Linked DNA regions of Homo sapiens: all the other regions are linked to region 4. Evidence: fine-mapped expression QTL. A gene starts in region 4. Each other region holds a variant in brackets. All regions are shown on one strand. Distances are from middle to middle.

The links. PIP is the estimated chance that this variant, and not a neighbour inherited with it, causes the effect.
Region 1: its variant is the best candidate, but not a certain one, in a credible set for the expression of ZMAT4 in whole blood (Lepik 2017, PIP 0.55).
Region 2: its variant is the best candidate, but not a certain one, in a credible set for the expression of ZMAT4 in whole blood (TOPMed, PIP 0.71).
Region 3: its variant is the best candidate, but not a certain one, in a credible set for the expression of ZMAT4 in whole blood (TOPMed, PIP 0.74).
Region 5: its variant is the best candidate, but not a certain one, in a credible set for the expression of ZMAT4 in left ventricle (GTEx, PIP 0.60).
Region 6: its variant is the best candidate, but not a certain one, in a credible set for the expression of ZMAT4 in whole blood (TOPMed, PIP 0.66).

The regions. Positions count from the first base shown.
Region 1 is chr8:40,715,090-40,720,125 of GRCh38, reverse strand. The region is part of intron 3 of ZMAT4 (zinc finger matrin-type 4); the gene reads left to right. Among named protein-coding and RNA genes, the nearest start is that of ZMAT4, 180 kb to the left of the region's middle. The variant C/T (reference allele first, on the strand shown) is at 2,650.
Region 2 is chr8:40,760,278-40,765,313 of GRCh38, reverse strand. All of the region lies in intron 3 of ZMAT4 (zinc finger matrin-type 4), which reads left to right. Among named protein-coding and RNA genes, the nearest start is that of ZMAT4, 140 kb to the left of the region's middle. The variant G/A (reference allele first, on the strand shown) is at 2,505.
Region 3 is chr8:40,732,079-40,737,114 of GRCh38, reverse strand. The region is part of intron 3 of ZMAT4 (zinc finger matrin-type 4); the gene reads left to right. Among named protein-coding and RNA genes, the nearest start is that of ZMAT4, 160 kb to the left of the region's middle. RefSeq lists an enhancer at 1,472-2,671. The variant C/A (reference allele first, on the strand shown) is at 2,665.
Region 4 is chr8:40,894,968-40,900,003 of GRCh38, reverse strand. It overlaps ZMAT4 (zinc finger matrin-type 4), which reads left to right and starts at 2,178. Exons shown (of 7, transcript NM_024645.3): 1 at 2,178-2,321.
Region 5 is chr8:40,743,963-40,748,998 of GRCh38, reverse strand. The region is part of intron 3 of ZMAT4 (zinc finger matrin-type 4); the gene reads left to right. Among named protein-coding and RNA genes, the nearest start is that of ZMAT4, 150 kb to the left of the region's middle. The variant T/G (reference allele first, on the strand shown) is at 3,083.
Region 6 is chr8:40,787,104-40,792,139 of GRCh38, reverse strand. The region is part of intron 2 of ZMAT4 (zinc finger matrin-type 4); the gene reads left to right. Among named protein-coding and RNA genes, the nearest start is that of ZMAT4, 110 kb to the left of the region's middle. The variant C/T (reference allele first, on the strand shown) is at 3,025.

The DNA of each region.
Region 1 (5,036 bases), 180 kb after region 4:
TGATAAGAATGTTCAGCTGCAGACATTCATTATTACTTTGCAATTAGGGAGAGGCAAGTCCATTGTTGACCTAGGTTCATGGGAGGCAGAGAAGTAGATGGTCACTGGGTCCTACTGCAGAGGGCATGGTGGAATTGTCTACAGATCTTAACATCCAGACAGGACTCACCTTGGAGAAGCATGGGCTGCTGAGGAGTGTGGGGTCTGTGCCCTTTGCCTCCAGGGAGAGCAAGCACATTAAAAGGCTTTGAATGGGCTGGGCATGGTGGCTCATGCCTGTAATCCCAGCACTTTGGGAGGCTGAGGGGGGGCAGATCACCTGAGATCAGGAGTTCAAGACCAGCCTGTCCAACATGGCAAAACCTCATCTCTACTAAAAAATACAAAAATTAGCAGGGTGTGGTGGTGGACACCTGTAGTCCCTGCTACTCTGTAGCCTGAGGCACGAGAATCACTTGAACCCAGGAGGCGGAGGTTGCAGTGAGTTGAGATTGCACCACTGCACTCCAGCCTGGGTGACTCCGTCTCAAAAAAAACAAAAAACAAAAAACAAAAAAAGGGCCTTGAGTGCCTTCTCCACGAACTCGCTGCCTGTCAGTCACTGTTGCTGAATATTTCTCCCTGCTTTCTCTAATTTACCTTCATTAAAGTATTTTATTTATTTATTTATTCATTTATTTATTTATGTTTTGAGACAGAATCTTGCGTGACACCCAGGTTGGATGGCACGATCTCAGCTCACTGCAACCTCCGACCCCAAGGTTCAAGCAATTATCTTGCCTCAGCCCCCAAGTAGCTGGGACTACAGGCACCTGCCACCACGCCTGGGTAATTTTTTTGTGTATTTTTAGTAGAGACAGGGTTTTACTATGTTGGCCAGGCTGGTCTTGAACTCCTGACCTCATAATTCGCCGTCTCAGCCTCCCAAAGTGCTGGGGTTACAGGTATGAGTCATCACACCTGGCCTCAAAGTCTTAACAACTCATATGTCAACTTCTTAATTACCAAAAGAGAGAGAAGAAAACATCAGTTTGGGGTAATGCATTTAAAGGGAGCCCTCAGGCTGATTTCTAGGCCCCATCCGGTTCTCATCTGAGTGAGCAGTATTTTGAAGTTGCCTCCAAGAATTGGACTTGATCATTTAGTTTCCTCTCATTTCTAAGGATTCCTGGGATTCCAGGTCAGTGCCACAGGGGAACCTTGGAAAGTGTATATATGTCAGAAATTTAGAGGAAGAATGTCATCAGAAATTGGAACTTGAATCCACAAGAGTATGAGAGATAATTGCTTCCACTTTGGAAGTCATTATCTTGTGCCCCCAGAACTCTTATCTATAGAGCAGGCATGAGAACTATGGTTTAGATGGGCTGTTTGCACATTTTACTTTGTGCTACAAATTTTTTTGCTTGCTTTTCTCTCTGTGTGTGTCTCTGTCACTGTCATGGAGACGAACTGGATGAGGGAAAGAAGAAGGAGGCTGGGTGAGCAGGTAATTGTGCAGTAGCTGTTCTCCAGAGAATCCTACCCAAGGGTCATGGGTGATTTATGTTTTTCCTCCACCTTTGCCCAGACTTTCTTTCTACTGTTGCCTTTGAATAAACTGGAAATTTAAAAAAAAATCATAATTGCAGTTTCCTAAATCATTTGACACTCCAGTCATCCTGCAAGTATTGTTATAAGGAGTTTCCCACAGAACAAACTGGCTTACTTCTATCTTCAAGGATGGGATCAGTAAGCTTGGCTAGATTGTCCAGTTCATTTGGGCCCAAAGCAGATTTCCTCCTCTAACCCAGGCCTACCTAAGAGGATGCTGGGGTCTGAGTAGAGCTAGCCTAACCTCCATGGCAGGCTGGTGACACTGCTGACGCAGACTGGTCACTGCCCTGTGGATTGCTTTATTTTTGGGCAGAATTGCTACCAGTTATGAAGTGCAGGATGCTGTGTTGGTTAATTAACAGCTATTTATAAGTGGCTATCTATACGAGGTTCTAATCCAGAAGTTGGCAGGAAGAAGTAAAAGAGAACTGAAAAACAAAATGCTAAATGCAGTGTGGTATCCTGGATTGGATCCTGAAACAGAAAAAGAACATGAGTGGAAAAACTAGTGAAATCTGTATAAAGTCTGGAGTTTTGTTAATAGTAAGCTATCAAAGTTAATTTCTCAGTTTTGATGAATGTATCACAGTTATGTAAGATGTTAACAGGAGGGGAAACAGAGAACAACAGTATGTGGGAACTTACTGTACTTTCTGCAAATTTAAAATTATTCATAATTAAAAATTTATTAAAAATAAAAAGAAACACCATCCAGAGTCACCATAACTTTAGTAAAGTAGGTTCCTATTGACAGATTCTTTGAAGTTTTAAGTTTATGTATTTTTTCAAGAAATATACATTTTTACTGAATGCTTTATTTTGTTTTTATTTATTTATGATTTTAAATTAATTTTTTTGTTTGCTTTTTAGAGACAGAGTCTTGCTCTGTCACCCAGGCTGGAGTGCAGTGGTATAATTACAGCTCACAGCAGCCTTGAACTCCTGGGCTCAAGGGATCCTCTTGCCTCAGCCTACCCAGTAGCTGGGACTAGAGGCATGCACCACCACACCTGGCTAGTTATTTTTTATTCTTATTTTGTAGAGATGGAGTAT[C/T]ACTGTGTTGCCAAGGCTGGTCTCAAACTCCTGGCCTCAAGCAATCCTCCTGCCTGGACCTCCCAAAGTGCTGGGATTACAGGCGTGAGCCACTGTACCCTGCCTGAATGCTTTATTTTGAGTATTTTATATTAGAAGATATTTCTTGATGGAACTAACACAGAAAAGCTAATAAATATGTGATTTGTTTTGACCTTTTTGTACAATCTGTATCAGAGACCAACTACTTATTAAATGGTGAGTGGAAATCTCAGAATACTTTCCATCTGGGTCCTTCAAATTGGGACTTAAGGACCTTCATTGTGTGCAAGGTTTGATAAGCAAAAGGATGACTTCACCCTACTGGGAAAAGATGGTATTACTGAGCAATCAAAGATAAAATTACAGGATTATAGACGAGATACAACATGTTTCAGCTCTTCTCCTTGTTAAAATCAAGTGCTCAGAACTTTTCATAGGAGGACAGAGTTTTATATCCAGAGAGATTAACTTTCCAGTGACACAGTTTCACAATGATAGGTATGCTAGCGTCCAGGGAACAGGAGGAGAAAAGGCAGGTCCACGTGATACCCATGGGCTTCCTGGAGAAACTGCTAATGACAAAGCTCCAGCTCAGTCTGACCAGCTAACAAAGTAAAAAGGCCTAGGTCTTTGTTGATATCTCAAGGAGACTTGCTTTTAGAAACCTCCGTGGAGCACAGAGTAGTAATGAAGATCTCCTGCTAGAGGGCGAGACATTTGGACCCTAATCAAACTGACTCTCTCTTATTTATTTTTATTTATTTTTGAGACAGTCTCGTTCTGTCGCCCAGGCTGGTGTGCAGTGGCACGATCTCAGTTCACCACAACCTCCACCTCCCAGGTTCAAGCGATTCTCCTGCCTCAGCCTCCCAAGTAGCTGGAATTACAGGCATGCACCACCACACCCAGCTAATTTTTGTATTTTTAGTAGAGATGGGGTTTCGCCATCTTGGCCAGGCTGATCTCATACTCCTGACCTCAGGTGATCTGCCTGCCTCGGCCTCCCAAATTGCTGGGATTACAGGCATGAGCCACTGTGCCTGGCCCAAACTGACTCTCTCTTAAGTAAAGGGAGGAAGGGTCCAAGGAAACACCTCCTGTAGTGGATTTGTGGCATTCTTTAGCATGGGGCTGACTCTCTCCGAGGGCTTGATCCCCTCCCCATATTTCTGATGCAGCAGGTCTGGCGAGGGGCCCTGGGCATTTGCATGTCCAGCAAGCTCTCAGGTGACACTGATGCTGCAAATCCGGGTACCACATTTTGAGAATCCAGACTTTCTTTTCTGCGTATCATGAATACAGTTGAGATTTGAAATCTTTTCCCCTATAAAGCCCTCCATTAAAGTTATATCTTTTCTTTAGGTCTGATCCTTTTCTTTTCCTCTGTGCTGAGTGATAAAGATAGCAGTGGAAATTGGAGGACAAGTGTCTGTCTCTGATTGGCTTCTCTACAGAACTGAGGACCTGAGGTAGCACTTGGGGTGATAAAGTTATAAAACCACAGGCGCTTATAGGCTTGGGCAGAAAACATTCGTGTTGATGCCTTAGCAGTTTTTCTCCATGACTTGGAGGGCCTGGCTGTTGTCAGGGTTGCAGGTTGTTTGGAAGTCCACATGGCATGTAAATGGACCCACAGGGGAACCTGCTGAACGAAGGGACCCAGATTAGTGAGGTGGGCCACGCTGGTGGCAGTGCCAACTAGAGACATCTCTGTAGATCTGCCCCATGCATGTCTGGGCTTCCTTCCAAAGAGCGAAAGGAGATCTTATCTCGTAAAGCACACACTCTCTCTCCCCTTTCATCTGTTAACCCTATAAAATTGTGGGATGAGGGGTTTACTTACTCTAAATAATTATTTTTCAAAATTTGATTTCTTTTTTAAAAGTAAAAAAGTATCACCTACTGTGGAATGTTTAGACAATTCATAAAGGACAAAGAAAAAAATAATTTTGCATAATCAGATGTATATATATATCACCTTTTTAATATTTAGAGGCTTGCCTTTCAGGTTTTGTTTCTACTCTTGCTCTTTCACACATGTGCAAATCTTTCTGGGTACTATGTAGATCATGGCTGTTGTTGCCTCTTTATGGCTTTGCCTCTCACTCTGGGTACCAGCTATGTCTTTATAATCAGCTATAAGGCTCTGTTTGGTAGTTATCATTTCCCCATCACTGCCTGAGCTCATCGCCTCTTACTCCCTCTCCTCTCGTTTGGCTGGTTTCCTTTGCTAATCTGTGCACATGCTGCTCACCTCATGCTCAAGGCCTCTCTACTCACTGTTCCTTCTACTTCGAATGCTGTTCCCCAGTTCCTCACTTCTTTCTGGCCTTTATTCAAAAGTCCCTTCCATAGCGAGGTCTTCT
Region 2 (5,036 bases), 130 kb after region 4:
AGGGGCTTTAAGAGTGTATATTGGTAATTATATGAATCAACTTTCTTTTGTACAGGCTTATACCTAAGAATTGAGAGACTGAATATATAAAGACGTTGTCTGGAGAATAAGAAATGGTGTCTTATTTTTGGGCATTGAAGCCATTGCTGGGTCCGGGGCCAGGGATGACTGCTGTTCTGGGTGAGTGGGTGCAGTGGCTCACACCTGTAAACCCGGAACTTTGGGATGCTGGCAAGAGGAACACTTAAGGCCAGGAGTTCAAAACCAGCTTGGACAAGATAGTGAGACCCTGTGTCTACAATTTTTTTTTTTTAATTAGCCAGGCATGGTGGTACATACCTATAGACCCCGCTCCTCAGGAGGCTGAGGCTGGAGGATTGCTTGAGTTTAGGAATCAGAGGCTGCAGTGAGCTATGATTGTGCCACTGCACTCCAGTCTGGGCAACAGAGTGAGACACTGTCTCTAAAAATAATAATAATAATAATATCGAAGGTATAGATTTTTCATAAGGCCCAACTGACATAAGTCATATTTATTTAGCATTTTGTTTTCAAAGCACTTTCTGCATGTATTATTATTACTGATACTCTCTCCACTAGCACGCTGTATTCTCAGAAGGATATAATAACACTTTATTCTACTCACCTCACTTCCTACTCAGATTCTGTGCTCCCAGGGGCTGTGAGAGGTTTGCATCCCAGTGTTAACTGATTGAGAAGAGCATTCACATCTGCCCTGAATACCCCCAGCGTATGGCTTTGTAAACAGAGAAAATGTGTTCCTGATTTCCCACACCCTGACCATGTATGAACCCTGCTCCCACCCCATTCATAGGAACTCGAAATTTACTTACAAACGCAGTGAAGGGCCTATTATACTTCTAAGGTCTATTGTTGCCATTTCTACTTCAGGCCATTTGGCTTTTGCTGTTGTTGTTTTAAACACCCAAATTCATTTCTATCTTCTGTTTTGACATTGTCAGCTGTTTAAATTTTCTCTTCACATGCTTTTATCTTTAGAATCCTTACTCGGATCTTACATTTTTTTTCCCCCTGGAAGACATTTTTCCCTTGGGGCCACAGAGTAAAATTAAGTGAGAAATAAATTGTTATGGTCAATTGCCTTAGAGAAATTTTCAGTAATCCCTCCAGCGTTAGAGACAGAAAGGACTTCAGTGTTCACGCAGTCCATTGAGAGTCTCCGTTTTTCACCCTTTTATTATCTTCAGACCCGTGGGTCAGATGCTTTGGGAAAAAATGATCTGTATGGGAAACAGCATTTTTAAGTAAAAAAGGTGATTTAGTTTTACCTGGGTTTTTTTTTTGTGTGTGTGATACTTTGATTTTTGCAAAATGTAAGTAACTGCTGACCAAAATCGCAAGTCAGTTTTAAGTAAACAGTATTTTTATGTGGGGTTAAGATAATTCCCTCTAAACATAGAGAAGCTTGGCATTTGGTTAGTGTCATCAGTGTTACTACTCTTAATATACATGCTTTCCTTCAGATCTGAAATATTCTGCATAGCTTGAGAAGCTGAGTGTCACTTTTACAAGTCCCTAAACATCCTAGAGTCTAGATGGGGAAGAATCAATCTAATCTAAACCCTTCTTATTACAAAGGTGAAAATAAAGAAGTACCATGACTTGACCAAAGTGGTCAGACCTGAGATTAAAATCCTGCTTCCCTAAATGCTATTCCTAGTCTTTTCCCACATATCTTGAAGTGGTGTCTTATTTTTTGGCCTTGTAACTGTTATGGGGTCTGGAGCCAGGGAGCATTGTTGTTCTGGGCAGGGTAAAAATAGTGGCTGGCTTTTATCATGCACTTTCCACACGTGTTCTAAATGCTTTATATATATGAGTGATCTTTCATCTTCACAAGCCCTGGAGAAGGCAGGAGTTGTCACTGTCCCCACTTAGCAGAGAAGCAAACAGAGAGATTAAGTAATTGACTGTGATCACCCAGCTAGTACTTGACAGAGACATGGCTGGAAAAGTAGAAAACAAAAGGAGATCTACTCTGATACTGTAAACTAGCTCCACAACATCCCATCGTAAGACGATAACGAGCATCTGCAAAGCGCTGGGGGACATGGACACCTTCCCCAACACAGATCAGGATCTAGTGGGGAAGTCAGATGTGTAGACCCTGTATCTCAATGCAGCATGATAAGTGCTACCATAGACATATGCCTGGGCATGGTGAAGGGTCCCTGGCCTCTCCTGATACGATGGGGCTAGATAAGTTTTCCTGGGGAAAGTGACACTGAACCACTTCTTAAAGGATAGATTTGGGTGAGCTAAATAAAAAAGAGTGGGAAAAGGCCCTTTTGAGTGTGCAGTCAGCATTGGTAATGTCTTCAGGGAAACAAACTCAGAGGCATTTCTTGAGTATGAAGTTCTAGCACTGTTGACTACCTAAGGCTGCTGTAACAAATTGCCACAAACTGGGTGGCTTCAACAAAGAGCATTTATTCTCTGGCAGTTCTGGTGGCTATAAGTGT[G/A]AAATTGAGGCATGGGCAGGGCCTTCCTCTGGAAAGTCTGACTGAGAACCTCTTCCTTGCCTATCTCATAGATGCTGGTGGTTGCTGGATTTGAAACTGTACCACAAAAACCTCTGCCTCTTCTATCTTTTCATTTTTGTTTTTTTTATTTTTAGAGATGGGGTCTTGCTCTGTTTCCCAGGCTGGAATGCAGTGGCATGATTATAGCTCATTGCAGCCTCGAACTCCCAGGCTCAAGGGATCCTCCAGACTTAGCCTCCCAAGTAGGTGGGATTGCAGGCATGCACCACCATACCTGGCTAATTTAAAAAAAAAAATTTGTAGAGATGGGATCTTGCTGTTTCCCTGGTTGGTCTTGAACTCCTGGCTTTGAGTGATCCTCCCACCTCAGCTTCTCAAAGTGTTGGTATTACAGGCATGAACCACCACACCTGGCCTTCTTCTCTGTGTGTATCTCTGTGTGTTCTCTCTCCTTCTTATAAGGACACCAATAACTGGATTTATGGCCCAATATAATCCAACATGACATCTTCTTAACTACGTACATGTGCAAGACCCCATTTCCAAATAACATTGCATGTCCTAGGTTGATATGAATTTGGAGGGGGACATTATTCACTTAGTACTATGGCAGAGGCAGGAGTCGAGGTTGGGATGGTGGGACATTGTGCGTAACGTTGACATTTACTTTGTCAAATGTCCCCTTGTCTTCTCAAGTGGTCTGCTGTTGACTTCGTGGTCAGTTCTCAAAGACAGATGCGTTTACCAACAAGTGCTGTGTGTTTGGCTTCCAGCTTAAATAGTACCCAGCACTGAGAGTTAGAAGTGGAGATTCTATCCCCAGTTCTGCTACGCATGAGTTTCACAACTTTGCTTTAGACTTTCTAAAACTCAATTACCATGGTTATAATCAAGCAATATAATTGCTGTCCTGACTGTCTCTCAGAGTTGTTAAGGGACTCAAGATAAAGTCATGTTTGTGAAGGTGCATGATAAATTGTAAAGTGTGTGTCAAGTATTCTGTCGTGGAATTTTTTCTTCTTTCTTGTGGAGTATCTCCTGATCTATGGGCCCTTTCATAATTAATCAATCAGCCAATTTCTACTGAGCTTCTACTATGTACAGAGTACAGAGCCGCATGCTGTAAAGGACACAGAAAAAAATGAAATATGGAGTTCATCAGGTAGTTGGAGAGAAAAGTCATACAGAAAGCAATTTAAAAACAATCAAGGGCTAATTTGTGTGGCCCTGCCTCTAATGAAGTTGATGATCAGAGAAGTGATTTTTTGATGGAAGCTGGAGTGCTTAACAATGGCTTCCCCAAGGCAAAAGCTTTAGAAGGCTCTGGAAGATTTGTACCATGACGGGGCGCCTGTTCTTGGTGGAGCTGCCTGCTGTGCAAAGCCTTAGAGGGAACAATGAGGAAGGCCTGTGGGAGACCTGGTTAGGCAGAGACTTGCAGGGGCCCTTCAAACTGACTTTCATTCAATATTTATTTAGAAAGCCCCTTTGAAAAATTAGCAATACATATGTTGTTTTATATTCAAAATAAGGAATCAAGTCCATAACCCAGTTATAACATTAAAACTTGTTTGGAATTGGATCTCTTGTGGATAGCTATAGTTACACACATTTGGCCAAGATAGAGATTATGTTTGTGGATATAATTATGAAGTACTATATGACATATGTTTAAAATTTCCCTTTATTGCCTTTTGTTATAGCAAATTATCCCCCCCTGCCCCACTGCCCCAGCCCACCCTCACCTTTCTTTCTTCCTTCTTTTCTCTTCTTCAGCTTCCTTTTGTTAATTTCCGAACTAGCAATTTCTTGGGAGGACAATTAAAGGTTTATAATGTAGGTAACACAAATCCTTCATTTTTAGGAAACCACATGCAGTATCGGGTTCAGGATTGTAGCTGACCATAGCTGTCAATTCTACGTTGGCCAAGCCCCAGGTTGGTGATAAAATCTGCTGTAGCTCTGTGCAACTTGCAGGTGCATGGTGCAAAAGCACGAGAGAGAGAGAGAGAGAAAGAGAGAGAGACCGCGACAGAGAGAGAGAGAGCATGACAGAGAGAGAGAGAGAGAGAGAGAGAGAGACTGTGACAGAGAGAGAGAGAGAGAGATCTTTGCGGTCAGAATGTTGCCTCGACCATGAAAAAAGTCAGCTTTGCCAGAAGCAAGAACCATTCAGAGTTAGTGAGTGGAAACTTGGCTTAACAGGAATTTTGTTTTTTCTGACTTCTTTCATTGCAGATTTTGTACTGTTTTTAGTTAGGTGACCCAAGATGCTGCTTAGCTCTCCTACCCCCAATCTGGTTCTGGTGAGGGTGCTGCGAAGCAGGGCTAGAGCCTGGGGTATGTTTGGGGAGGGATGGAGACTGGGTTGGCCAGTAGGAGGGGCTCGGTTCCTGAGGGCAGGTGAAAGATTTGCAGAAGCAAGTGTATGCCAACTTACAGATGTTTCCAAAGGGTCAAATAAAAGAAAAAAATCAGCACTTAGGTAAGGACTGATCATATATGGAAGTC
Region 3 (5,036 bases), 160 kb after region 4:
GTGCTCTCTGTGTTGTTTTATTTGCTGCAGTGGCTTCAATCACCACCCAGCCTGTTGACCTTCAGACCTCCTGCTTACTTCTGGACCTCTGTGCCCAAATGCTTTATAGATCTTTCCATCTGGAAGTTGCTTAGGCACTGCTTATGTCCAGTCAGAGCTACCTCTATTCCCTGTATTTCCAATCTTGGTCAATGAAGCCTGCCCAGTCAGCTAGGCTGGAGTCTATCTCACTTTTACCCCTATTTTCAGTCCATGAGTACCTCGTCTCTGTTGTTAGCTGCTTAGCCCCTCATCTCTTTCTTCCACCCGTCCCTCACTGGTTTTCACATCCTGCTTTGCTTCACTCCTGCCCATCCTCACAGACTGCCAGAGGACTGTTCTCAATTGCAAAACCCATTACTTCACGAGCCTTCCTCTGCTCATACTATTACCTCCAATCACTCCTTATTCTTGTGGACTGCCTCCCTTAACTCCTTTTGTTATGTATTTGTGCAATGCTTCCAAGAATTTTGGTGACTGGTTTTTCTGCTTTCTTTAGTTGGGCTCTGTGTGCCTTCTGGGCAGCCATGATGCCTCTTCATTTTGTACCTCCAAGTGCTTATATGGTACTTTTCTTATAGTGGGTGTTCTGTAAATATTCACTGAATGAATGAGAATCATGAGATGCCACTTGAGACTGTGAGCTAGACCTTACTGCTGAAAGATGTAAAAATAGCATTCCAGGAAAGCAAGAGTTCTGGGTAATATCTGCCATTGCCTGACTGACATTTGTTCCTTGATATTGGTATAATGTGGCCAACAGGGTCCCTCCTCCACCTCCTGTACATTTTCCTGGTGAGCTGTTTGCAGCAGTCAGGAAAGGTTAGAGGAGTTGTCATCATTTTTACCAGCTTGATGTGTTTGCCTGGACTCAGTCCTTCTCCATGTTCCTGAGGCTATTGTGGTTGAAAGATTCCTAGGAGATAAGGTGAGGTTGGTCAGAGTCTTCCTGATCCCCACTGATGGGCTGTAGGTCTGAATAGCATTGGTTGACTTTATACAGTGTTTCTCCCGCTCTGCACTGTGGCATTACTGCATCTACTGAGACATTTACTTGTCTTATCTGCATTCCTAAATAATCCATCTTGGATTCTTAGCTTCTAAGAAGACTGAATTTGAAAGATCTAATTTCCAGCTTCATCTCAGCTACCAATTTACTGTGTGCCCTGGGACAAGTCACTCCCACTCCCCGTGCCTCTTTCTTTCTCTGGAAAAGGAAGATGCTTCCCGAGCGCCCATCCAGACATGCTGTTCTGGGACTCTGAGTGTTGTGATGGGTCCTGCGGTTAAACGTCCATATGTCTTTGTTTACAGTGTCTTAATAGTGAGACACTGAACTCACTGCTTTACAGAGACTATTGAATACACTGAACACCATGCTTAGCAAATTGTGATTGCCAGCTATAGGAATGTCCCTTCTGAGAGGAGAGTTGAAAAAGTGGCTATAACACAAAACCTGTTTCCTCAAGCTTTATGATGGGTTAAATTCCTGAAACCAGCTCTCAAATATTTTTTAGATCCAGTTTCTAACTCATATCCTTTATTTTAGTAATGCTTTTAAAAAAATCTGGCACTGTCTGAAAATGGACTATTCTAAGTAAGTATGTTTTTCAGATAACTGACTATGACTCTATGAGCACAAAAACTGAATAGTGCTCTTTTTATAAGGATGGAAATCCTTACAAAACGTATAGAACATTGTCTTGTCCTATAAAGAGAAAATATTGAGTATAATATAATTTAAATTTCCTATGTGACTAAAGTCATGTCTTTTATTCCTTTATTCAACAAATACTTATTAAACTCCAAATATATGCTAAGCACTGTGCTTAAGTAATGGGTATCTCATGTCTTACTTTGCAGATGTATTACCACCAAAGATTCCTCCTTATTGCTTCATTTATACAAGTTGACTGTTTTGATTTTATATATTAAATTTGGAGTTCTGAGCAATGATAAGGCAGAGTTTCTGCCTAGAGCATCAGATTTGGTGGGCAATTCAAACTGTCACATGCTCAGTCAGTAAAAAGCTGAGTCAGCTGTGTCTCACACCAGCCATTTTAGTCATCTAGACATAGGCGTTCCCACAACAAAGAGTCTGAAATAGCAAACAGCAAACTCAACAGGCTCTGTAATCTTTAGGTCCCAGTAGATTCTAATTTTATTTTATTTCAAGCAAGAGGGCATTATTGCAAAATATTTAATTTCTGTATTAATGTCTTTAGAGATTTTTTTAAATTTTGGACAATTCCAATCATATAATTTTTTCTTTAGGAGATTTTCAAGATTGGCCTCCAGTAACCTTGAAAACAGCCTTAAGTCATATTATGGGATGGTGGTGTTCTGGAATAGTTGCTGTTAAATGTAAGGTGACTCCTACTTTCCCTTTGACATTCATTTTAAACCTGGAGATGGTTTCTACAGAGAGTTGGGAGAACAGACTGGGGAATGTTTTCTAATGAGAGACGGGTGATTACCAGAGTCTTCCAGAATGTTAGAGCATGCCGACAGGCTACTTCTACTCTCTCTCTCTCCGCTCGGTTGTACTTTTCCATCTCCAGAATCTTTCACCTAGGGCACAGGGCAGTCTCTTCACAAGGAAATCGTCTAAATTTACACCCAAAT[C/A]TTCCAGACTTTGTTTTCTTTTATTTTGTAAAGTCTCACGAAGTCAATTGTGGTTCACACGCAGGTGCCGATGATACATTACATATTTCACACACTGCATCTTAAAACTGGGGCTTGTAACTCCTCTTAAGTGCCATTTAATAATGTGCCAGGGTGTTTTTTATTGTTGCAGTGGGGTGTTACAGGTACTTAGCAGGAGAGGCCAGCCATGCCAAATGTCCTGAAATTTGGAGAGCAATATTTCGTAAGTAAGACTAGTCCCATCTAAAATGCCAAACGTGTGCCTATTGAGAAATAACTGCCATGTCCAGCGCATTCCTTGTAGCTTGCTATCCTCATTCTGTTAAGCATTGTTCATCTTTCCTACTTGCAACCACTAATGGTTAAAATCCTGCTATCTTTGAGTCTTACCTAGGAACTACCTTCCTTGTGGAACTCTCCTTGAATTTCTTGCTGGAAATAGTGTCTCCACCATTTTAGTGTACATAGTATCTTGTTTTTACAGATCACTTCTGGATGTAGCTAATTATTAATATCTACCTCCAAGGTGTCAGCACCTTCAGGGCAAGGATGTGTCTTACTCAGAGTATTCCTGGAATACCATGGGGATTCATGGCAAGGCTCAGGAAACATTTGTTGAATGAATGAACGAGAGTTGTTGAGTAATAGAAAACTCTTCATTCCTGCTAATTTAGACCTGTTCTAAGGCTGCCTTTCACAACCAGTATTTCTTAAACTGGATCCCACCTATAATAGTTATCTGAAATCCCTGCATATGTCATTCTTAATGAAATCTGAAAGCAGTGCCTAAGGCTCCACCAAGAACAGCGATTCTCGTTGGCCTGTCCCTGAAATTGTCTTGACACAACTTGTAATAGGCTATGACTGCTCAACAAATCCAAAAGCTTCTGCATTTCAGCAACTTGTTAACAGGCCCCCAAACAACTCTAGTTAATTCTGTAGAATACACAAGATTCACTTTGAAGTATATAATAATATTAACACAAGTCCTGTGAGTTAACATTGTGACTAGGCATGCATTGCAAATTAGATGCAGTTACCCTCTCTCTGACTTTTTAAAATGTAGAACATAATAGAGTTTCAAGGCATTTTAAGCTTGGAAATGAAATATACCAGATTTTTGATTTTTGCAAAGACAATGACAAACTTAATGAAAGACCAAGAATGGGTCTGTTCTAGTCACTGAACCCCCTGCGATAATTGTCTGCTTGCAAAGATGAATTCAGGGCTCTTAAAAAAGGATGTCAGCTCCCTTTAACTGTGCTCAGATTTTTAAGTTAAAAGTATGGAGGTCAGCCAAACATGTTGGGTTTTGCTTGTAAGCCCAGCTACTCAGGAGGCAGGATTGCTTGAGGCCAGGATTTCAAGACCAGCCTGGGCAACATAGCAAGACCTCTAAGATAATGAAAATTAAAAATTAGCTTGGTGTGGTGGCCTGTGCCTGTCAACCCAGCTACTTGGCAGGGTGAGGTGAGAGGGTCGCTTGAGCCCAGGAGTTCGAAGATGCAGTAAGCTATGATCATGCCACTGCATTCCAGCCTGAGCAACAGTGCTAAACCCCCAACTCAAAAAAAAAAAAAAAAAAAAAAAAAAAAGGAGGTCTTGCTCAGCCCAGGTCTGCCAGATGTCCCTGGTTCCCAGTGTCTGCCTTTTTCTTCTTCCCACAGTTGAGGCCACTGGGGCATCCAGGCCTCAGGGCCTTTTTGGGAAGAGATGATGAAGGCCTACCCCATAACGTTGGACACCAGTATCAGTCATGCTTGCTCCAAGGCTTATCCTGCCCTCATGGACCTGTGGATATTTTGGATAGCTATAGACTGTCCTTCCTCCTCTGCCCCTGTGGCATCTTGGTAATTTAGCTGCCACTCTGGAGCAGGTGCCTGTTCCTACCAGGGAGAAGAGTCCTGGATATGAATCCAGCCCAATGGCTTGGGCCCTGCTCACTGCTGCCCAACTGTACAGATGCCAGATGCCTCTTTTCTACTTGGGTTCCTAAGGCTGCAGGCCCTGGCACCTCATTGTGCTGGCTCCAGCTCTGTCTGGTGCCAAGTGTGTGCCTAGGCTGACATCTCTTTCTTGCTGGAGCTGACTGCCTGCCAGTACCTGCTGCAGGGTCTGACCTTCCCGTTGTAGGCACTCTTCTAAGGTCCCTTTGTCTTTTTTTCTTTTTTTCCCAATTTTTAAAAATTGGGGTAAAACATGTATACATAAAATTTACCGTCTTAGGCATTTTAAGCATACAGTTCATTGGTATTAAATACATTCACAGTGTTGTGCAAACATCATCACTGTCTGTCTCTAGAACTCTCTCCATCTGATAAAAATGAAACTCTATACCCATTAAACAATAC
Region 4 (5,036 bases):
CCAGGGCAGGACTGGGACCAGAGCCTCACCAAAGACATGGAGATCCTAGGATAAGAAGGCTGAAGGGTTAGTTTCTGGATCATCTGAAATTTGATATTTTAAAAGCTTTCTTTAAAAGACGCTTTTATAATTCTCTCTTAAAAAATTCAGCCCATTTTGTCCTTTGCCATTTTTGAATTGGGTTATAGGTCTTGTACTTATTGATTTATAAAAGCTCTTTCATTTTAGAAACATTAATAATAAATATTTTACCTAGTTAAGAAAATTTAGCTGCCAAGTGATGTCTTTTCCATATGGTGACAAATACATTAAGGAGAGGGGAAGGTCAAAATTTGTGCTTTATGATTTCTTCTTAATTTTTAAAAATTTTTAATTTTATGGGAACATAGTGGGTGTATATATTTATGGGGTACACGAGATATTTTGATACAGGCATGCAATGTGTAATAATCACATTAGGGTAAATGGGGTATCTGGCACCTCAAGCATTTAGCATTTCCTTTTGTTACAAACAATCCAATTGTACTCTTTCAGTTATTTTAAAATGTACAATATGTTTTGCTGACTGTAATAACCCTGTTGTGCTGTCAAATACCAGATCCTATTCATTCTATCTAACTCTATTTTTGTACCTAGTAACCATTCCACCCCCGCCCCTTCCTAGCCTCTGGTAACCATCATTCTATTCTCTCTGTCCATGAGTTCAATTGTTTTAATTTTTAGCTCTCACAAATGAATGAAAACATGTGAAGTTTGTCTTTCCATGCCTGTTTTATTTCATTTAACAGAATGTCCTCCAGTTCCATCCATGGTGTTGTAAATGACAGGATCTCATTCCTTTTTATGGCTGAATAGTACTCCACTACGCATATGTACCACATTTTCTTCATCTAATTTATCTGTTGATGGACACTTACATTGCTTCCAGATCTTGTCTATTGTGAACAGAGCTGCAATAAACATGGCAGTGCAGGAATCTCTTCAAGATACTGATTTCTTTTTTGGGGGTATATACCTAGCAGTGGGATTGCTGGATCAGATGGTAGCTCTATATTTAGTTTTCTGACAAACCCCAATACTGTTCTCCATAGTGGCTGCATTAATTCACATTCTCACCAGCAATGTAGGAGGGTTCATTCTCTTTTCTTCACATCCTTGCCAGCATTTGTTATTGCCTGTCTTTTGGATAAAAGCCATTTTAACTAGGGTGAGACTTTATGATTTCTTGGTGAACAAGGAAAAGTGTTTAAGCTGTCCCCACCCTTTGATGGGTATGTTCTCTCTTCACGTGCGTAGGTTGTTGATGAAAGTCTAAGCGATTAATTTAAGCCATGTCAGAATAAACCAAAGTGAGGGTCCCAGCAGAATCATTCACTCTAGAATGCTCGGCTTTCTGGACCTCCCAGTGAGAACAGTGAGAAACTCCAGAGTTTTATGGATTTTAAGAATAGCTCTTCTGAGACTCTTTGGACAGGGTGCAAAGGAAAATTGTCTCCTCAGGTTGGGGGATGAGGGGGACTGTGAGATAAAGTACTGATAGATAAACTCCAGGTATGCACCTACTATGCTCCCCAAGCAATCTGCCATGTCCTTCACATGTCCTCCAGGGTGGCCCTGTGAAAAGCATTACTCCATCCCTTCAGCCCTCAACCTTGCTCGGCTTTCTAGAGTCTGTCTCATGCCGGCAGACACCCCATAGTTATTATTCTCTCTGCCCTCAGCAACATTTACCAGTTAGGGGGAAAATAAAGCCAGAAAATTGTTGCTATGGGCTCTGTTTTGTGGAAGTTAAAATGCTAGAGCAAGAATCTGATTGCTTGATAGCTCCATCTCTCTCTCTCTCTCCCTCCTACCCTCCTACCCCCCCACAGTTTCTCCTTCTTTTCCTCTCCCCTCCACCTCCTTCCCCCACCCCGCTCCCCCACATTTTCCTACTCCTCTCCCCTCTCTCCACTGGCCTCCCGGTCCTGCCCCCACATTGGGCTGGAGGAGAGCCTTACAGGTTGTCAATGAAACATGGAATTATTTCCTTTGATGGCTTAGATAATAGTAGGAGCCAAAGCAATGAGTGAGGTCGGCTGAAACCAATGCAGTCCTGCCCGGGACTGGAGAGCCAATCGCAAGAGCAGAGGGCGGGGCGTCGGAGCCAGCAGATAATTGCTAAGTGCATCGCTAGCACAGTTGGTCCGAGCTGCCGAAAGGTCTGGTCGCAGAGACAGGAACGTGTAATCCTCAGCGTGCTCCAGCCCACAGCTTCGCTCTACTGCTCGGCAGGGCAGCTGGCCTCTGGGCACCGGCGGCCCCTCTGCCTCGCGGAAAAGGTACCTCTGCCTGCGTCCCGGGGGTGCAGCGCCTGCGTCTCCATTGCCAGTGGCTTTGCAGTTTAGCCTAGGTGGAGGGATTGCAGAAAGAAAAGTTTCTGGGAGGGAATGTGATAAAGGTGGGAAATCACTGTCTTTTGTTGGGAGGAAAACAAGCGGACAATTTGGGAAACTTCTGCGCTGGCAAGAAATGGGCTTGTTTACTACTCCTAATTAGCTGCGCTCAGGTCTGTCTAAATAGGTCTGGTCTCAGGCTAGGGTGTCTGCAGGGCTGGGGTGGAGATTCGGGTGTGCTGGGTGAAAGAAGTTGGATCCCAGGGTGTGCTGTTTCCTGGTGCACCCATCATGGATAGGCTGGTTCCGAGAGAAACGTGATTGGTTGTTTGTGTTTTCCGCTATAGGGTCTGTCCCCTTCGTATTACCTTGATCTGCCTTCCCCAAACTATTGTGACCTTCAACTGGAGTCCTTCCTCAAACTTCTGCCTCCTTCCTGCCTGTCTCAGTTCATTTTATTTGGTGGAAGGAGACATTCCCCGGGGTGGGTGGGTGAGGATGGTCTATTCTGTTTGACCTGGTGGGCACCTACGTGACAACTTGGTGACACGCCAGCAAAACAGTTCTCAGAGGAGAGGAAATCACATAATTAATTAGCTCCCGAAAACTCTGGAAGACTTTCCAGGCTTGGGGTATCCTGAAAAAAAAAAAAAAAGAAAAAGCCAAAAAACGGGATAGAGAGTTCGGTTTGGTACCATGTGAAGCTTACACCCTTGTCCCCAGAAGGGGTGCCTGGCCCGGAGCATCCCCGCAGCTCTGGGAGGTGGAGGCTGGTGGAGGGGGTGGCTCCGTGTAGGTGCGCAGGTTGTTTTGGTGCACAGGTGCATTTGTGGCAGAGGTGGTGCTGAAGTCACCATCCACACTGCTTCTGCTAACTGCTCTTGAAGTAAAACAGCTCACCCCGGCAGGCAGCTGGTTCAGCCCAGAAGCACCCTTGAGCATTCTAAATCGCGAGACCTCAGGGGCCTCTCTTGCTCTGAGACCCTTGGGAAACTCCTTTCTCCCCCTGCCTCCTCCGCCTTTGGCTTCTGCTAAAGGGAGATATTAGGTAGGTGAGTCACTAGGAAGCAGGGACCCATGGGGAAGCAGGCGATGTGCTTGGTCTCGAACTTTCTTCCTCTTCTGCGAAGGCAGCTTCTGCTTGTGTGCCCACCGCACTTCACCAGTTGCGCTGCCTACCTGCGGGATACTCTGAAGCTGATAGTCTGGGGGTGATCTTCCAAGTCCTAGGGGCATTGAAGAGTTTAGATGATTTTCATCCCTCTGATTTCCGTTAAACCCGCAGCTGGGGAGTTCGATTCCCAGTCCTGACAAGACTGCATGTTCTGGGAGGGATTCTCCAGTGACACCTCTTCCTCAGGGCACCCTTCCACGGAGATGCAGATGACAGTCTTGATTCTCCAGCTCCACAAATCCCTTCCACTTTTTAATTCTTATTTTCTTTAACCACCACAACAGATTCTCCTCCACCTCCTGTAGGCAGCTATTTTGGGTGGGAACTGTGATTATTGAAACTCTATTCACAATGGTTAAAAAAATGCCTGCCCACTTTTTTTTTGGGGGGGGTGTCAAAATACCATCAGCGTTCTCTTCTGTACTTCCTATCTGACAGTAAACAAAACAATTTTGCAGCCCTGCCAATTATAATCTTTTTGTGTTTGGGGGGCCTGGAGCGGAAGCTGAACTTTTCCCAGCCGGTGGGCATGGTTAGTCATGGACGTCGTCCTCTGTGGCCTCTCCAGGGCACGTGACCCCCAGGGAGCCCAGGAGGGGCAGCCCCCAGCACGTGGGGGATCTTGCATGAGAGCACCTTGGTTTTCATGAAGGCAGTAAGGAAACCAGAAAATGCTTTTGAGTTTGAGGATTGCAAAACTGGGGGTTCCCTTTAATTGATGCCAATCTGTTGGATTTCTATCGTGATAGGAAACATTAAAAGTAAGGCATTTGAAACAGCTCCTGAAGGGTGAGTCATGCACAGAGGGAAGAGGCAGTGTGGGGGGAGGGGGCGGAGGGGGCCTTGGAAAGTACAAGTGGGACACGCTGGAGCGCTCGCTTTCCTTCCCTCTGCCTCCTCCTCAATCCTCTTTCTTGTATTTCCCCATTCGGAACAGAGATCATTAAAATAACAACTTTAGACCAAAAAAGGATCCTAGGAGCTGAAAAATAATTGACAAAGTGCAAAACACCCTCATTACAGCTTCACCTTGGATGGGGTGAGGTGTGAAACCCAGGACCCAGCGCCTCTGCTGCGATCCAGTTTGGAGAATCTAATTGCTGGTGTTAGGCTAATTAACTCCTTGTGAAGCTGCGTGCCTGTTTGTGTATGCAAGGACCGATGAATGCCTAGGAAATTAAATGTGTTACTTGTCATTTCATCAAACATGATGGCTTTGGCCAGGACCCTGGATAAGCACTATCCACAGACCCAGCGTTTTCTCCTCTTCCCAATTGGCCAAACTGGATCTCTCTCTCTTTTAACCACTATGGTGGGAAGGGGTTGTGTCTTTCTGCTTTTCCAAGCCCTGCGTGAGTTACCTGGCAAATAAAAGTCCTCTCCTTACCCCTCTGTCCCTCCATCCCTGTCATCCTTCTGTTATCCCTTTTCATCATAAACATATCAGTAAGTAATCTTTTGCCAACCTACTTTGATCTTGTCATTTT
Region 5 (5,036 bases), 150 kb after region 4:
CATGAGACTTATGCGCTTCCACAAGAACAGCACTGGGGAAACAGCCTCCATAATTATTATCTCCCACTGGGTCCCTCCCACAATGCATGGGAATTGTGGGAGCCACAGTTCAAGTTGAGATTTAGATGGGGACACAACCAAACCATATCTGATAGGGAGTAAGAGAAATCAACAAAAAAAGACTGATTAGAATGAGCTAGTGGGTCTGTATTCCAAGATCAAGTTCTGCTTAGAGATGCATTTCTTAAAAAAAAATAAAAGCCCTAAGTAATTGTCAATGAATTAGAAAAACAGAGAGAAAATATTACTGTGTTCAATACCATTCTTGTTTTAAAGAAGCTAAACGAATACAAAGAGTAAAAAAATATGGTGTTGGCATTTGCACATTGGGGCTTTGCTTGGAGGAACACAACTTGTCATTACTTGGCTGTGATCCAGCCCCAATATTTAAGTCTAGCCAGAAGAGAGTTAAGATATTTTGAACAGCTCTAGATGACAGCACACACAGCCCTGAACTGTGTGCATGGAGCAGCTGGTTGTATTCCCCTCCTTTCTGCTTATGGGTGGTGTTATTCAGTCATGGCACAGTGACTTTAATAGATATTAAAAATGCAGCTATTTGAGCATGTCATTCTCAAAGCCCCATTGAAATGCTCTACAGCAGCATATGTGACTGAACATGGTACAAGGCCATTACCTGCCTGCAACAGGAACCATTCCTTTTGATCTGTGACTCCGTATAGCAAAATAGTTTTGTAATCACGTATAATTCATCTATTAGTTTTGTCTTTGTGCCAAGCATAGTTAAAAGAAAAATCATGTGGAAAAGATTATTTTTATTGTGAATTCCTGATGGAAAAAGGCATTTTCCTTCAAAGTTATTATCTCGGTTTTACAGCTGACCTTTAAAAGAGTGTTTATGACTTTAAATACTCCAGAGCTCAGCAAATATTATCCTCCATATAATTTTAGATAGTCATTATAGCTTTGTCTATAAGCACTGAGTATGTATCATAAGACACAATGTTGGTCGTTTAAAATTTTTGATATTTTATTGTAAAAGAAAAAAATCTTGTTTCATTGGTACATTGAGTGATGATTGACCTTTTCTTATTAAATTTCCTCTTCACATTTCATCTGTATGTAATCCTAGAAGGTCACTGGTTGGCATTAGCAACCCCAGAAATGAATGGTCATGATGTCACATCCTAGAATTAACAAATTAGTTTGTTTGGTCTCTCATTATCTATTATATCCCTTACTGTAATGGGGGATGAAAAAATTCAAGATGGAATTGTGGCCTGCAATGTCTTGAACACCAAGAATTAGGGATCTTCAGTGTGTCCCTCCTCCCACCTCTCTTACCATACATACTTTGCATTTTTATGTGTTGTTTTTTTTTCTGTATGCTTTATGACATACTCCTGGGCATGAGTTTTCTGCTATCATGGCTGATGATGCAAAAAAAAGGGGAAAGAGAAAGAAGGGAGGGAGAAAGGGAAGAAATAGAGTGCTATCGAGGGAAAAGTAAAACCGAATCATAACCAAGGAATATCTGAGCCTGGAAGGGTTTATATGGCTTTTCAATGGAGTCTTGCCACCTAGAAATAAAATAGAAATCTATACTCCTGTGTGCATTTCACTTGGACTTCCAGAAAGGCTGGGAGATCATGGGCGAGTCATGTAACTTCCCTGCATTATTTCCTCCTCTGCAATAAATGATCAATTGTTCCTTTCTAATTTTAATAGCATGTGATTTAAAAGCTCCTTGGAAACCAATACCATGATTTAATAAACCAAACGGATCAGTGGATTGTTGATAATTTCAAGTAATTCTTTTATTTTATCATGAAATCATTATCCATTTTTATAAACCATTAATCCAAGTTTCGTGCGTATTCTGGCATAGCATAAGTAGTGAGCACAGCCGGGAAGGGTCCCTGCCCTCCATTGAAAGTGGCAGCTCTCATAAGTGCTATGGATGAAGGGTCACGGTCCCTGGGAGAGCACGTGGGGAGAGATCACCAGCCTCGGAATGAGGGAATTTTTCTGCAGCAGTGATTCTGAGTGGCATCTGAAGGGTGCACAGGCTTTTACTGGGTAAGAAGGTTAAGGAAGAGCATTCCAGGAAGAGGGACAGCATTATGAAAGTTTGGGGAGAAACGGAAAGAAGGCAAGTGAGGCTAGTGCAGAACAAAGCAGGATGTCGTCATAGAAAAGGCTAGCATGACCAATATGGTAGGAGCCAGACCATGTGCGGTTTTTAGGGAAGGAGTGACAATATCATTTATCATCCAAACATGACACTTCTAAAAGTGAAAGGGCACTATTAGTAGTAAAACTGGGCCGGGCATGGTGGCTCATGCCTGTAATCCCAGCACTTTGGGAGGCCAAGGTGGGCAGAGGTCAGGAGTTTGAGACCAGCCTGGCCAGCATGGTGAAACCTGTCTCTACTAAAAATACAAAAATTAACTGGGTGTGGTGATATGCGCTTATAGTCCTAACTACTTGGGAAGCTGAGGCAGGAGAATTGCTTGAACCCAGGAGGCAGAGGTTGCAGTGAGTTGAGATTGCGCCATTGCACTCCAGCCTCGGCAAGAGAGCGAGACTGTCAAAAAAAAAAGAGAAAGAAAGGAAAGAAAGGGAAGGAAAGGAAAGGAAAGGAAAGGAAAGGAAAGGAAAGGAAAGGAAAGGAAGGGAGAAAGAAAGAAAAGAAAGAAAGAAAGGAAGGAAGGGAGGGAGGGAGGGAGGGAGGGAGGGAGGGAGGGAGGGAGGGAAGGAGGGAAGGAGGGAAGGAAGGTGGGAAGAAAGAAAGAGATGTTAACCAGGAGTGGCAGTTCCTCTGCGGAGCTCAGAGGAGAGATTTGGGTGGAAGAGTTAAATTTGTGTGTGAGCTCTGCAGTTGAGAACGTCTACCAAGAAAGCTTGAGGAGAGAAGAAAAGTGAGCCGGGAAACCTACTGGCTGCGAAGATGGTGAGACCACCAAGGAGATCTGGAAGAAACAGGCAGGTAGGAGGAAAACTAGGAGTGTGTTGTGTCAGGGAAGCTAAGGGATGCTTAGCTGAGTACTAACAAATTAGT[T/G]CTAGAGGATGAAATAAAAATCATGTGCATTTTATTACTGTATGTTCAATAACATATATATTGAGTGGACCATTTTTGTTTCCTCAAGAGAGGAATTGAGTGATGAGCAATATAAAACACCAAATGTCCCTATTTTCTTACCTTCACAGTGATTTTGATGATCTTAGAGATAGGCGTAGGAGAAATCCATCCTCTGGCTGGAAATGGGGGAATATTGCCTGGCAGATCTGGCTCTGAACATTGTCCTAAGTTAAGGAATGTGCCATCTGCCGTCCTCTTTCGGCACTTATTCTCTCTCAGAGCCATCGTGCTTGAATTTCTAACAGGATCTTCACCCTATTTCCAGATCCTTGGCTTGGGAAAGGACCTTGTAAACTCATTTATACTAAGGTGTAAAGGATTGATAAGCCTAAGTCTATTGTTTTGCTCAGAGAACTACACCTGAAACAACAATAAAACTGTCTCTGTTCTGGAAAATGCAGTTTTCTGAGTGTGGGGAGGATGTTCTGAACCTGCCTCTTTTACTTGAATTACTTGCTTGTAGTTTGCTTTTAAATACCTTCGAAATAGAACCCTAGGGTCACACAATTGTAGACTTTGGGGTGCTTTCAGTCTAGAGTAATCACACCTCAGAGGACTTATCTTTCCTTTCTCTCCAAACCTGCTTCCTCTTTTAAATTTCCTTTTAGAATTTGATTAATAACACCAACTTCTTCCCTTCTTCCCTTCACCCAGGCTAGAAACGATTGAATTATATTTGACCTGCTAGCTCACCACATCCGGATGCTGTGAGTCGGCCCTGCCTGCCACTGCTGGCTTCATCTTTGTCCCTTCCTGTGGTTTCAGAGTGAGATCACGCTTTTATCAACTCCCCCTTGGCTTCATGCCTCTGCCTCCTGACCCTTGTTCCAAGTCTGTTTTCTTCTATTCAGCCTAGAAATTGTGCTAACAGAATTGCCTTTCTTATGTAAGGATCTGAACTTGGGCCCATCCTCTCTATACATCTTTGCTGGTGCATTTTCTCCTAAAGCCTAAATTTCTCAAAGCACCTATTGTCCTTCTAAGGGCTGCCGAACTAGAGCTTGCCTGCCTTACTTGTTATTTTTGTTTGACATTAGTTGAAAATTGCAGGATAGCAAGAGAAGAGACCAGCTAAAACATTTTACTCTTTCTTCATTCCTAGCCGAAGGTGGGGGTCTATCATTTTATGCCTCTTTGTGAAGATGCAAGTCTCAAACTACCCAAAAGAACCTAATACCTGGGGTGGGTGTTGCTTAATCATTCAATGGGGAGGAACTCTGTGGGTTACGGCTGAGCAGCTCCAGGAGGCTGCAGTGAGGAGGGTGCTGGAAGTGGAGTGAAGGCTTCAGCTTGATGTATTCTTTTGCTTAGGACAGAAATGGTGAGCCCTTGGGTAAATATTATCACATTTCTTAATATTTATTTAAGATGCCCTTATTTAAGATGCTGAAGAGCAGGGTGTTCCTAATATTTTCTAGAAATATAAAAGGAAGCCAGCGTGATGACTAAGCCAGCTGGACACCTGCAGATGTGTCTTGCCACCTGGCCTCGGCTCCATCTCCCTACCCCATCTTCACCCCTAGCAGGAGCAGACTGGCCTTTGACTTCTGCTGGCTAGGGACACGGACTCCCTGGATTCATCTGGATTAAGAATCCAAGACAGTAGTCATGATCTGTGAAGCAGTCTCTTCTGCTTCCCAGGAGGAAGAAACATCTTAACAGGTAGGGTTGGAGAATCCAAGGTCCCACGGAGGGGACTTGTCATAAAGAGGCCCTTCACAGGCCTGTGTTATCTCATTCTAGTCTCTATCTTTCTGGGCTCAGTGCTGGGCATTCACTGAGGTGAACCATAATCATGTCAAACCTGATACTCCTTGCTCCTGGGAGCATTCATTCTAGCCATATTTTTTCAAAGCTGTTCACCCTTCCAGAA
Region 6 (5,036 bases), 110 kb after region 4:
TGAAAGTGAAACATAGGATTTTTTTGTAGGTAAGGAAATACAAAATTAATGTAAAAGTATTTTCTGCCTCAAAGTCCAGTCAGACTAGTTTCAACCCCATAGCTAGTTTTAGTCTTTTTAATCCCAGAAAGAGGTGAACTCATTGCATGCTGTGGGTGGATAGCAACACTGGTGGATTTTGAAGCAACCCACCCGGACATGGAGTTATGGCCCCTCTGCTGTGCAGCGGCCCTCCTGATGAAGTTAGCTGGTGCTCATAGCTATCCAATTTATTGACAAGCCAGTGGACACCAGGGCACAGGGCTGGCCTCCTATAGCTTCCTTGTCTGTGGGCTATAAGGGAGAGCTTCGATTTCTCAGGCTAAGACAAAACATGGCAGAATATGCTGCTCAGTGTAGTGAAAAGTGTGCTGGTCTTAGAGTCCGTAGTTGGTCAATAGCTATTATTTAAAAAAATCTATGTTCTGAGTTCTGGAGATCTAGCAGTGAGCAATTCGGACTATTCCCTGCCCTCAACAAGCTTATATTGCAGAATGCTGGATGTGGGTGTGGGGAACTACATGAGCAGAAGATGGCCCAACTCAGCCATGAGCCAGGGCGAAGGACCTGTGTGACCTTGGCTGGTTGCTCAGCCTCTCTGAGCCTTAGGGTTTTTGGAGGATCAGAGGAGATGGGCTATTGATAGTATACATGAAATCACTTTGTAAATTGTACATTACTCTCTCAGTGTAGTTTCTGTGGTTATCTGTTTTCAAACTATAACCCTCTGCTTTGGAAGCGGGATTTCCCAGGCTTAAGTACTTTGGAGCTCCTAGGAGCGCTTCCATGTTACCTCTTATTCCATCATGATTTTGGAACCTGGTCACATCTGTGCTCCCCTGCACTCTCTGGATGCCATCCCATGCTCCTCCAGTCCCTTCTGAACATCTGTTCCCTGAGTGGGTTCTGGATATTTTTTCTAGAAGTTTTATTATTTTAGGTTACACAGTTAGATTTATAATCCATCTTGAGTTAATTTTTAATATGGTGCTGATATAGATCAAAGTTAATTCTTTTGCTTATGGATATCCAGTTGCTTCAGCATCTTTTATTGGAAAGAGCCGCCTTTCTCCATTGAATTACCTTTGCTTCTTTTTCAAAATCAATTGACCATATAAATGTGAATCTCTTTCTGGCCACTGTGTTCTGTTTTCATTAATCTGTTGGTGTATATTGATAGTAATACCACACTGTCTTGATTACCATAGCTTTTTGATAATCTTGAAGCAGGTAGTGTAAGTTCTCTATCTCTGTTCTTTGCTTTCACAGTTGTTTTGGCAATTCTAAGTGCTTTGCATGTTCAAATGCATTGTAGAATCTGTTTGTCAAATTCTACAAAAAATGGCTACAGAGGTTTTCATTGGAATTGCATGGAATCTGTAAGTAACTTGTCAGATAATTGACATCTTAACAATATCAAGTCTTTAATCCATAGTATTAATATATCTCTCAATTTTTTTGTTTTCAATTTTTCTCAACAATGTTTTGTATTTTTTAGTGTATAGGTCTTGCACATATTTTGTCAGATTTATCCCCAAATATTTCATATTTCTGATAGTATTATAAATGGTATTTAAACAATTAAATTATAAATGTTATTCTTTAAAATTTAAATTCTCTATGATCACACCACTGCATTCATTCTGGGTGACAGAATGAGATCCATCTTTTTAAAAATATCAATTTCTAATTTTGTGTTGCTAGTATGTAGCAATGCAATTGGTTTTAGATATCAATCTTGTATCCTGAAACATTGCTAACCTATTGATTAGATCTAGAAGCTTTTAAAACCATTGTTAGCCTACCAATTAGATCTAGAAGCTTTTAAAATAGATTCTGTATTTTCTACTGCTACAATCATGTTGTTTAAGAATAAAAACAGTTTTTTTTCTTTATTTTGTGGAAATAAATGAAGACCATCCAAATGAAAACAAACAAAGCGTATTTATTCAGAGCTTGCTATAGCAAGAGAGTCAGCCACAATCATTTGTGTTTAACAGAGACTCAAAGGCAGGCAGGGGAGTGGGGAAGCTTCATGGTGGAAAAGAGAGGGAATCATGTATGCCTTGACTGGAGGTATTGGCATGGGGAAGCTTTAGGTGGGTTAACTAGAAGTGGGGCAGTGTACATGACTGGTTTGGGGTGGATATTTGGCTTTTTTTCCAGTTGGTTCTAAGTTGGAAGTGGGAGCAATATGAGAAAAGCTGTCAATTACTCATTATATTCTGGCTGTTCTGTGCTGATTGCTACAGGAGTTATTGTTTGGCTTTATGGGCTGTCTGCTACACAGTAGTTTGCCTTCCTGGACTCATTACTGCAGATAGTAGGTTGGCTTCCCAGGCTGATTGCTACAGTTTGTGGGTCAGAGTACTATTTGTTTTTAATTTTTAATTTTTGTGGGTACACAGTAGGTATGTATATTTATGGGGTACATGAGATATTTTGATACAGGTATACAATGCATAGTAATTACATCAGGGTAAATGGGGTCTTCATCCCCTCATGAATTTGTCTTTTCTTTGTGTTACAAACAGTCCAATTATACTCTCCTAGTTATTTTAAAATGTATAATAAATTATTATTGACTCTAGTCACCCTGTTGTGTTATCTAATTTTTGTTTTTATATATGGTCTGACCATTGTCCATTTGCATATTCAGTCTTTCATTTTGCAATTTTGATGCACTGAATTTCTTTTTCTTGCCTTATCATGCTGGCTAGAACTTCCCAGTACAATATTGCATATAGAAAGGGTGACAGTAGACACGTTTGCCTAATTCATCTTGGAAAAAACATTCAGTCTTTCACCATTAAGTACAACGCTAGCCGTAAGTTTTCATAGGTGCCTTTTACAGGGGTGAGGAAGTTTCCTGCTATTCCTAGTTTGCTGAAAGTTTTCCTTTTTAAATCAATTTATGTTTGAGTTTCTCACACCCTTTTTTTTTGGCATCTATTCCACAGTTGCAATGTTGATGTGAATTTTCTT[C/T]TCCCTTCTTCGCCTTCCCTCTCTCCTCCCTCCCTCACTCCCTTCCCTCCCTTCCCTTCCCTTCCCTTCTCCTTCCTTCCTTCCCTCCCTCCCTCCCTTCCTCTTTTCCTTCCTCCCTCCCTCCCTTCCTCCCTCCCTCCCTCCCTTCCTCTCTCTCTTTCTGTAGGTATGATAAATTCTATTAATTGATTTTTAAATGTTAAATCTACCTTGGATTCCTGGGACAAATATCCTTTGGTCATGATGTATTATTCATTGTATATGTCCTTATATTTGATTTGCTAAAAATTTGTTAAGAATTCTTATATCTATGTTCATGAATGATATCAGTTTGTGTTTTTTTTTTTCCTTGTAATGTCCTTGTTTTTGATATCAGAATAATACTGGCATCAGAATGAGTTGGAAAGTATTCCCTCTTTTTCAATTTTGGGAAGAGTTGGTGTACAATTGGTGTTTTTTTTGTTAATGTTTGGTAGAATTTCTTAGTGAAACCATCCAAATGTGATGTTTCCTTTGTGAAAAGATTTTAACCACAAATTTAATTTCTGTCACCCAGCTGAGATTGTGCAGTGGTGCAATCTCAGCTCACTGCAAGCTCTGCCTACTGGGTTCACGCCATTCTTCTGCCTCAGCCTCCCGAGTAGCTGGGACTACAGGCACCCGCCACCACGCCCGGCTAATTTTTGGTATTTTTTAGTAGAGACAGGGTTTCGCCATGTTAGCCAGGATGATCTCGATCTCCTGACCTCGTGATCCGCCTGCCCCGGCCTCCCAAAATGCTGGGATTACAGGCGTGAGCCACCGTGCCCAGCCTATTTATTCTTAAGCTTTGGTAGTTTGTTTTTTCAGGTAATTTGCTCATTTCATCTAAGTTGTAGAATTAATTGGCAGAGTCATTTATAATATTACCTGATTATTATTTTAATATATGTAGAAGGAGTCATGTTTTTTTATCTCTCATTCCTGATATTCATGATTAGTGTCTTTTCTCTATTTGTTTCCCCATTGGTCTGAGTAGAGATTTATCAGTTTTACTGATCTCAGACAACCAGCTTTTGCTTTCATTGATTTTCTCTTTTGTATTTCTATTTTTGTTTTCTTGATTTCCACTATAATACTTATATTTTTTCCTTTCTTCTGCTTTCATGAGGATTAATTTATAGTAGTCCTCCTTATCCATAGTTTTGCTTTCCACAGTTTCAATTACCCTCAGCCAACCATGGTCTGAAAACATTACAAGGAAAATTCTAGAAATGAACAATTCATAAGGTTTAAGTTGCATTCTTTCCTGAGCAGCACATGAAACCTCACACCATCCAGGTTCATCCCGCCCTGGCTGTGAATCCTCCCTTTGCCCAGTGTCTCTGCACTGTGGGTGCTCTCTGCCTGTGAGTCACACTTGTAGACCACACGGGTTGTCAGATCCACTAATGAGGCCTCACCATGCTTGTGTCCAAGTCACCCTTACTTGACTTAATAATGGCTCCAAAGCACAAAAGTAGTGTTGCTGGCAACTCAGATATGCCAAAGAGAAGCTGTAAAGTGTTTCCTTTAAGTGAAAACATGAAAGTTCTCAACTTAATAAGGACAAAAATTGTATGCTGAGGTTGCTAAGATTTACACAAGAATAAATCTTCCATCCATGAAATTGTGAAGAAAAAGAAATTTGTGTTACTTTTGCTGTCTCATTTCAAACTACAAAAGTTATGACCACAGTGTGTGATAAGTGCTTAGTTAAGATGGAAAGGCATTAAATTTATTGATGGATGACATGGACAGAACATGTTCTGATTGACAGCGATGGGGATTGGCACTATCTGTAGTTTCAGGCACCCACTGCGGGTCTGGGAACCTATTCTATAAAAGAAGACTGCCGTACTGTTCTTTTTCTAGTTTTATAAGGTGCAAGCTGAGGTCATTGATTTCAGATCTTTCTTCTTTTCTATTATAAGCATTTAGTGCTGTAAATTTGGGATGGCATTTCAAAGTCTCCATATAATGAATACGGAGTG